2 linked regions of the Homo sapiens genome follow. The protein of the gene in region 2 interacts with the protein of the main gene of each other region in a biochemical or structural test. Each region holds a gene or a part of one and is shown on either strand. Other genes may lie near its edges.

Region 1 (3,500 bases), on a different chromosome or scaffold from region 2:
TGGAGAATGACAGGGGCCCCAAGGCAGATGGCATCAACCTCATCAAAGACCAAAAAACAAATAAACGAACAAAAATCCCTCCGGTAGGCAGTGAAACACCACAAAAAAAGCAAGGGCTATAGATGATATACCAAGAGCTACAGATGGATGAGGTTGGACAAGTCACATAACCTCTGTGTCAGTTTCCTCATCTGTTTGTTGTGAGGAATAAATGAAATAATGCCTGTAAAATGCCTGTCAGGTAGAAGTCACTGAAAGGAACAGAAGTTCCATTCCATCCCCCTAAGGAAAGACAGGGAATGGCCAGAATCTTCCTAGCCAATTGAGTAGTGCTTTCAAGGAGAAATCAAGAGAAAACACTACTTCTTGGATATTTTGGCTAAGTAGTCATTTGAAGTACAGTTGACTGGTTATTTTATTTTAAATCATATCTCATAGACTCTTCCCAATCATAGGCTGGCTGTGTAGTTTTCTGAATTTTGCTCTGGTATTCTTCTTCTTTTTTTTTTTTATTTTTATTTTTTATTTTTTTTTTGAGACTCCAGGCTGGAGTGCAGTGTCACGATCTTGGCTCACTGCAACCTCCGCCTCCCGAGTTCAAGCGATTCTCCTGCCTCAGCCTCCTGAGTTGCTGGGACTACAGGCGCCTGTCACCACGCCCGGCTAATTTTTTGTATTTTAATAGAGACGGGATTTCACCATGTTGGCCAGGCTGGTCTCTAACTCCTGACCTCAAGTGATCCGCCAGCCTCAGCCTCCCAAAGTGCTGGGATTACGGGCATGAGCCACTGCGCCTGGACTTATTATTCTTAATAGTATTTTATCTTATGAGCGAAGATAAGAGCCCAAGATGGTTTAGTTTACTGATTCTGCAAGTGCTATTTCTATTAATTCCTTGGCATACTGCAGTTTGTATGATGGCTGCACTCTTGTTAATAAGCTTCGTCTTTCTGAATTCTGTTGCTCCATAGGGAGCTGGGAGGCTGCAAAAGGTGGCCCTGTAAAAATCTTTGCATTTATAATTTAATAAAGGGGACATTGTAACACTGGAACTCCATATTTTAAATGAAGAGCTCTGTGTCTATTTTTTCTCCTCCCCCATTTCTTTCTTTCTATAAACAACAGTGGTGTGTGTGTGTGTGTGTGTGTGTGTGTGTGTGTGTCTGTATGTTTGAGACATTCAAGTCACTTCCATTTCCACCCTTCACCCTGAGTGGAGCTCAGGGTTAGCCATCATTGTGCATATTTTGTGGTCAAACCGACTCTGTAGGCTACTGAAATTGTTTTAAAAAAATTGGGGCCTTTACTGGCCAGGCACGGTGGCTCATACCTGTAATTCCAGCACTTTGGGAGGCCAAGGTAGGCAGGTCACCTGAGGTCAGGAGTTCAAGACCAGCCTGGCCAACATGGGGAAACCCCACCTCTACTAAAAATACAAAAATTAGCCAGGTGTGGTGGCACACGCCTGTAATCCCGGCTACTTGGGAGGCCGAGGCAGGAGAATTGCTTGAACCCAGGAGATGGAGGTTGCAGTGAGCCAAGATCGTGCCACTGCACTCCAGCCTGGGCAACAAAGCAAGATTCCGTCTCAAAAAAAAAAAAAAAAAATGGGGCCTTTCACAATAAGTACCCACAGAAGCTTTACCCTCTAACTACTTTTTAACTCAGAGCTGTGTGTTACACACCAACCTTCTGGAGGACTCAAAAATGGATCCCTTTCCTTTCACATTATTGAGTGATGGACCAGTGGCACCTAAGGAAGAGCTACCACATTTTCAGGCTGTGTGAGTCTGGACTGGATCATAAGAAACAGGAGAAAAGCAGTCAAAGAAGGTGGTACCAAATCATGGCAATTCTGGTAGACCTCTAGCTCAATGATCTAGAGGTGGAGGCCATTTCACCTTTTGCTCAGAGGGGCGATGGCTAGTGAGAGACTTGCTTACTTCCTCATAGTCAGAGCAGCACTAAACCCTGCCCAAACACAGATACTTGAGAGAGAGGAAGACTTCCTCTTGTACAAACTGGATTTGTTCTAAAACAGAGAAAGAGTAGAGGCAGCTTCCAGAAGGACCTGTCTTATAGGAAGTAAGAGCAGGGGACAAGAATGAAACAGATGGTGGGTCTAAGCAGGGAATGTATCCACCAAGAGCCTGCAACAAAACTAAAGATAAAATGTTGCCTGCGATTTATTCGGCTAAGAGAAGTACACCAGACATGGTTTGTTGGGATGCTTCTGACCCCATTTACTGGTCACAGTACTCAATTTATTTAGGGTTTTATTTTTTATCCTGTAATTTGAGTCTTTGATTGTGAAGAGGTACTTAATTATAATTTGCCACAAGAATAATTGTGGTATGATTACAGGGCTCTCAATGAGTTGGTAGTTCCTGAGAATAGAGTAGTATTATTTGGTTACCACTACTCCTGAGTAAATGCATAATTGTAATGTTAAAATGAACCTCTTTGAGTTTAGAGCTAAAACTGAGTGTTGGGAAGGGCTGATTGTAAACTCATCAATTTGTCACTCCAGTGAGAGACCATTTAAACCAGGGAGTCAGGGTGTGTGGCAGGGTGGAGGGAAAGGTTTGCACTCTTGCCCAATTTTTCTCAAAATCTAATTTACAAAATATTGAATTAATCCACCTCCAGAAGATAGTGGCATACACATGGTAGATAAGTGGCAAAGCGATCTTCCAGAACACCCCTGGTGTTCCTTTGACGTATTTTCGTCTCCCCAGCATGAGAATAGAACCTCCTACACCACAGGAAAGAGCAAAATAACAGTGTGGATAGCCCCCAGGCTTTGATAAAATTCACTCCCTTGCTTTCCTAGTGTGAGCAATAATCTGCTTAAAAAGTAGAAAAAAACTGCTGGCTTTATTCATTCTGCTTCCACGGTGCCACCAAAAGCATAAGGAGTTTACTTAAAAAATAGACACATTCCCACCCCCACCCCCCCACCAGAGGAAAAATCCCTACCACTAATTAAACTTGAATGGAGGGCTGGTGGTTTTTTCGTTACTTACTTAGTGTTTTTTTGTTGTTGTTTTTGATTTTGTTTTTTGAGACGGAGTTTCGCTCTTGTTGCCCCGACTGGAGTATAATGGCACAATCTCGGCTCACTGCAACCTCCGCCTCCTGGGTTCAAGCGATTCTCCTGCCTCAGCCTCCCGAGTAGCTGGGATTACAGGCATCCACCACTACGCCCGGCTATTTTTGTATTTTTAGTAGAGACGGGGTTTTGCCATGTTGGCCAGGTTGGTCTTGAACTGTTGACCTCAGGTGATCCGCCAGCCTCGGCCTCCCAAAGTGCTGGGATTACAGATGTGAGCCACCGCGCCGGCCTAGTGTTCTATTTTTATGACAGCATTTGTTTTCACTTTATCTTTCCAATGAAAGTTCGGAATTAGTAATAATATTACACTGTGCATAAACTGTAAGTGAATAACTGATATGAAGTGTTGCTTGGTGTGAATAAAAAAGCCAGTGGTGACTTTGGG
Region 2 (3,500 bases):
ATTCACATGATTTTAGCACTGTTTTCTGGACTATAAAAATCCATTCATTGAATATGCATCTACTTACTGCAAAATAAATAAATATCATCTCTTAGTAAAATTATCCCTCTATGGATACTTCCCTCTCAAGCAGTAAGCTTTAAAAAGTAATGCAGAAGTAAAGCAAAAGAATATAAAATATGATGTTATTTATGCAGGGCCCTCAAGAAATCATATCATTCAGTAAGTGATTTCTCCAGATAGTGAAGCTTCATCTTTAAATACAGAAATGACTTTTTAAAACTTTATTGTCTTGCACGCAAATCTTTCTAAAATGCTTTACTACATACTTCACCAAACATAATCCATTCCCCAATGATTCAGACTAAGTATTGTAAGCATCCATTTCTATACTGCACTTCAGGAGACTCTCAGAGGCTGTTGCACTGTATAGAGTGTCATTTGCCCCTATACTATTAATAAATAGTACCATATTGCTATGCTTGTATAGTTCATCTTTTAAATACAGTTTCCTGTCTTTTTTCTCTCAATTTCCATCAACTGTCACTTTTCCCCCTCCAATAATAGGGTTTATAGGAGGCTAAACTCTTACCTGCCTCAGGGACTTTGCACATGTTTTCCCCTAAATACATTATATTCTTTCCCTCACTTTTTGCCTGGCCAACTCCAACCTTCAGGGCTTCTCTTCCCTGACCACCCTCAATGCAACCAACTCCAGTGTAAACTAATAGCATAGTTTTAGAGATCCTATTACTTACCTACGTAGTGATTTGTGTAATTTTGCAATTCAATTTTTCTTTGTATTTATTTGTGTAGTACGTAACTCCCCAAACAGACTGAAAAGTTCAAGAAGATAGTGACCACGCCTGCTTTATTTGCCATAGCACAGTGCCTAGTACATAGCATATCTGTACAATAAATAAACAGAATTCTCCTGAGAGAGTAGACTTGTAAAATTTTTGAGATTAGATTTGATACATGGGCCACAATGAAGAGAGTGCTTTCAAAGCATCTTCCACTTGAGAAAAAGAGCTCCAATACTGAACATATACATAATAAAATAAACATAACTAAGACAACTTTACCAAAACACATGCACAAAACATCTTGGGAAAATGGCAAAAACAGAAAAGCACAGAACATGTCCTTTTGCTACAGCTTATGTGTCACTCTTTGTTTTCCGGCTAACTGTGGCTCCCCCCCATCCATTCCTTGGCTTCCCTGTTGAAATCACATTGTTACAATTCAAAAAGCCCTTAGGAACTAAAATAAATAATCAAGAAATGAGTAGCAATGAATTGAGGTGCATTAGATATATTGGGCTAGTGATTACAGAGGCTGAGTAGACATTATACAAGACGTGAACCCTTACGGCAGGAAATTACAGCATTAAAACACAGAATTTAGCCAAGCAGCACCTGCCATTTATTTATTTATTTTTAACATGGTCCAAATGTGAATGTTTGTCTCAGTCACAAAATGAGTCACCCTCATTGAATCTGGCACAGATTAAGCTGGAAAACAAAAGCAATTACATAAACTACACACTTTAATAAGGCAGATACAAAGGTTCTCTGGATTATGGTACAAAGCACAATTTAGCCACAGAATAAAGCTTGATGCTCGACAAGAGAACTGACATCAGCACCCTTGCTAATCACAGCACAAAAGCGTCTCTATGTTTTGTCAGAGCACAAAACGGGCCCACATAAATCAGTCTTTGTTATCTGAAAATATCTGAGATTCTTAAAGTTTGTCCTATTTTTATCCTTGCTGCCTTGGTAGCTCCAGAGAAAGCCGTACACTGCCTTGCCAATCCTGCAGAGCAGGAGCAGACAAAAAGGACAGGCTTTCTAGAAACCTTCAAAACCAAATACTCAAAGTAATTTTAAAAGAAATTCACACAAAAAATCATTTTAACGACTAGACTTCCATTACGAGCAGGTAATGAAGAAGCTGAAATTTGCAAGATGTCTGCATAGTTGAGAAGGACTATGTAAAAACTTATTTTGTAGCCATTTCTTATATGCAATAGTCACTCCAATTTTGAGTTGAACAAATAATTTGTTAACAAGAAGTCAACAGTTAAGTCTGGATTTTGGGGTAACTTAAAAGTACCAAATTCTGAAGCCAATTCCCTATGCTCAGTGACTGCCCCCTGTGCCTACAGGATAAAACCCAAACTCTGGCAGGGTACACAGGACCCTCCAATCAACTCCCGCCCCATCTCCACCCCTAAATCTCTCCAGCGTCACTTCTTGCCCCTCTGCCTTCCAACCACATTGGAAATACTTGTAGTTTCCCAAACACTCTGCTCTGTCCTGCCTCTCACCCCTTGGCACAAAATCTACCCCCTAGATTTAGCTCAGCCCTCTTCGGGGCACCATCCGAGTTGGCTCTGAGCTCTCCATTTCCACCTTTTTCCTAAATCATTTGACATCTGTGCATTTGAATGTACTGAGGGCTGGAGCCATTTTAACCTTTCTTCTTTCCTTTCCCATTGCCTAGCGCCAAGGAGGTGCTCAGTCAATGTCTGCTAAATACGCAATACAAAATGTTTGAGGCAAGGATTAAAAATACAGAAGTTCTCATACTATTTATGCATTGCAGGGATAGTGATATAACTGCGATCTGCCCAGCCCATTCAAGAATTGGTCAGGCAAGCATAGAGGTGTGTAAACAAATTAATTTGTTTTTAAAACTCTACAGACATAAGAGAGATGTTTTTAAACATCATTTTAAAAGAACTATTCTTTTAAACATTTCCTGTATTTAGCAAATTGGATATGCTCACCTGTAGAACTGTCACACTGAAGCTAGGTCTTAAGGCAGGCTTATCACACACCCTAGAGTATGGGTATGTACATACTGGCAAGAAAGTACAGATGGGAGTCCCACTATTTGGTGGGAAGGAAACATTTTTTAACCTGGATTAACCCCAAGCCATTAATGGCTGTAATATTACTAACAAATTCACAAATTTTGCCTATATGGCTGTAACGTTACTAACAAATTCACAAATTTTGCCTAATTAACCTAACTAGCAAATGGCTTCAGCTTTAAAGAAAAACATTGTAACTGCTGTACACCCTGTTTTGTGAGTTCTCTGTGGTATAAATGACAGCTCACATGCCTGGTGTGATGCTTGCCAAAATTCCCTCATCTTTTCCCTGTACCTTTACTGGAAGAGCTAATTATTGAGGAAGTGGCCAATATATGGGCAGGCAAGAGAGAAGATCAGAGAAGAGGTCGGGGGTAGTCCATGGGTTCTCTGCCCTGAATGCACATTAGAAATATCCGGAGAGCTTTGCTTAAAAAAAAAAAAAGCTTGGGGTTTCACCTTAAGCCAACTAAATTGTAGTGTATGGGGGTGGGGTGAAGATTGGAATAGGCAGGTTTAAACACTCAACAGATGATTCTAATGTGCCACCATGATTAAGAACCATAGATCCAATCAATAGGATTATATTGCTCTTTAAAGTAAAATTTCAAAAACAAAA

Evidence for each region. Proteins that work in one complex are often made in the same cells at the same time.
Region 1: the proteins of GAB1 (region 2) and BTK form a complex in vitro, tested with the Homo sapiens proteins (one large-scale study listed by BioGRID and IntAct).

The regions. Positions count from the first base shown.
Region 1 is NC_000023.11:101,376,192-101,379,691, reverse strand, and holds part of BTK (tyrosine-protein kinase BTK), read left to right. Parts: intron 1-1,668; exon of another isoform or gene 1,669-1,833; intron 1,834-3,500. UniProt on the Homo sapiens protein: Non-receptor tyrosine kinase indispensable for B lymphocyte development, differentiation and signaling. Binding of antigen to the B-cell antigen receptor (BCR) triggers signaling that ultimately leads to B-cell activation.
Region 2 is NC_000004.12:143,409,876-143,413,375, reverse strand, and holds part of GAB1 (GRB2-associated-binding protein 1), read right to left. Parts: intron 1-3,500. UniProt on the Homo sapiens protein: Adapter protein that plays a role in intracellular signaling cascades triggered by activated receptor-type kinases. Plays a role in FGFR1 signaling. Probably involved in signaling by the epidermal growth factor receptor (EGFR) and the insulin receptor (INSR).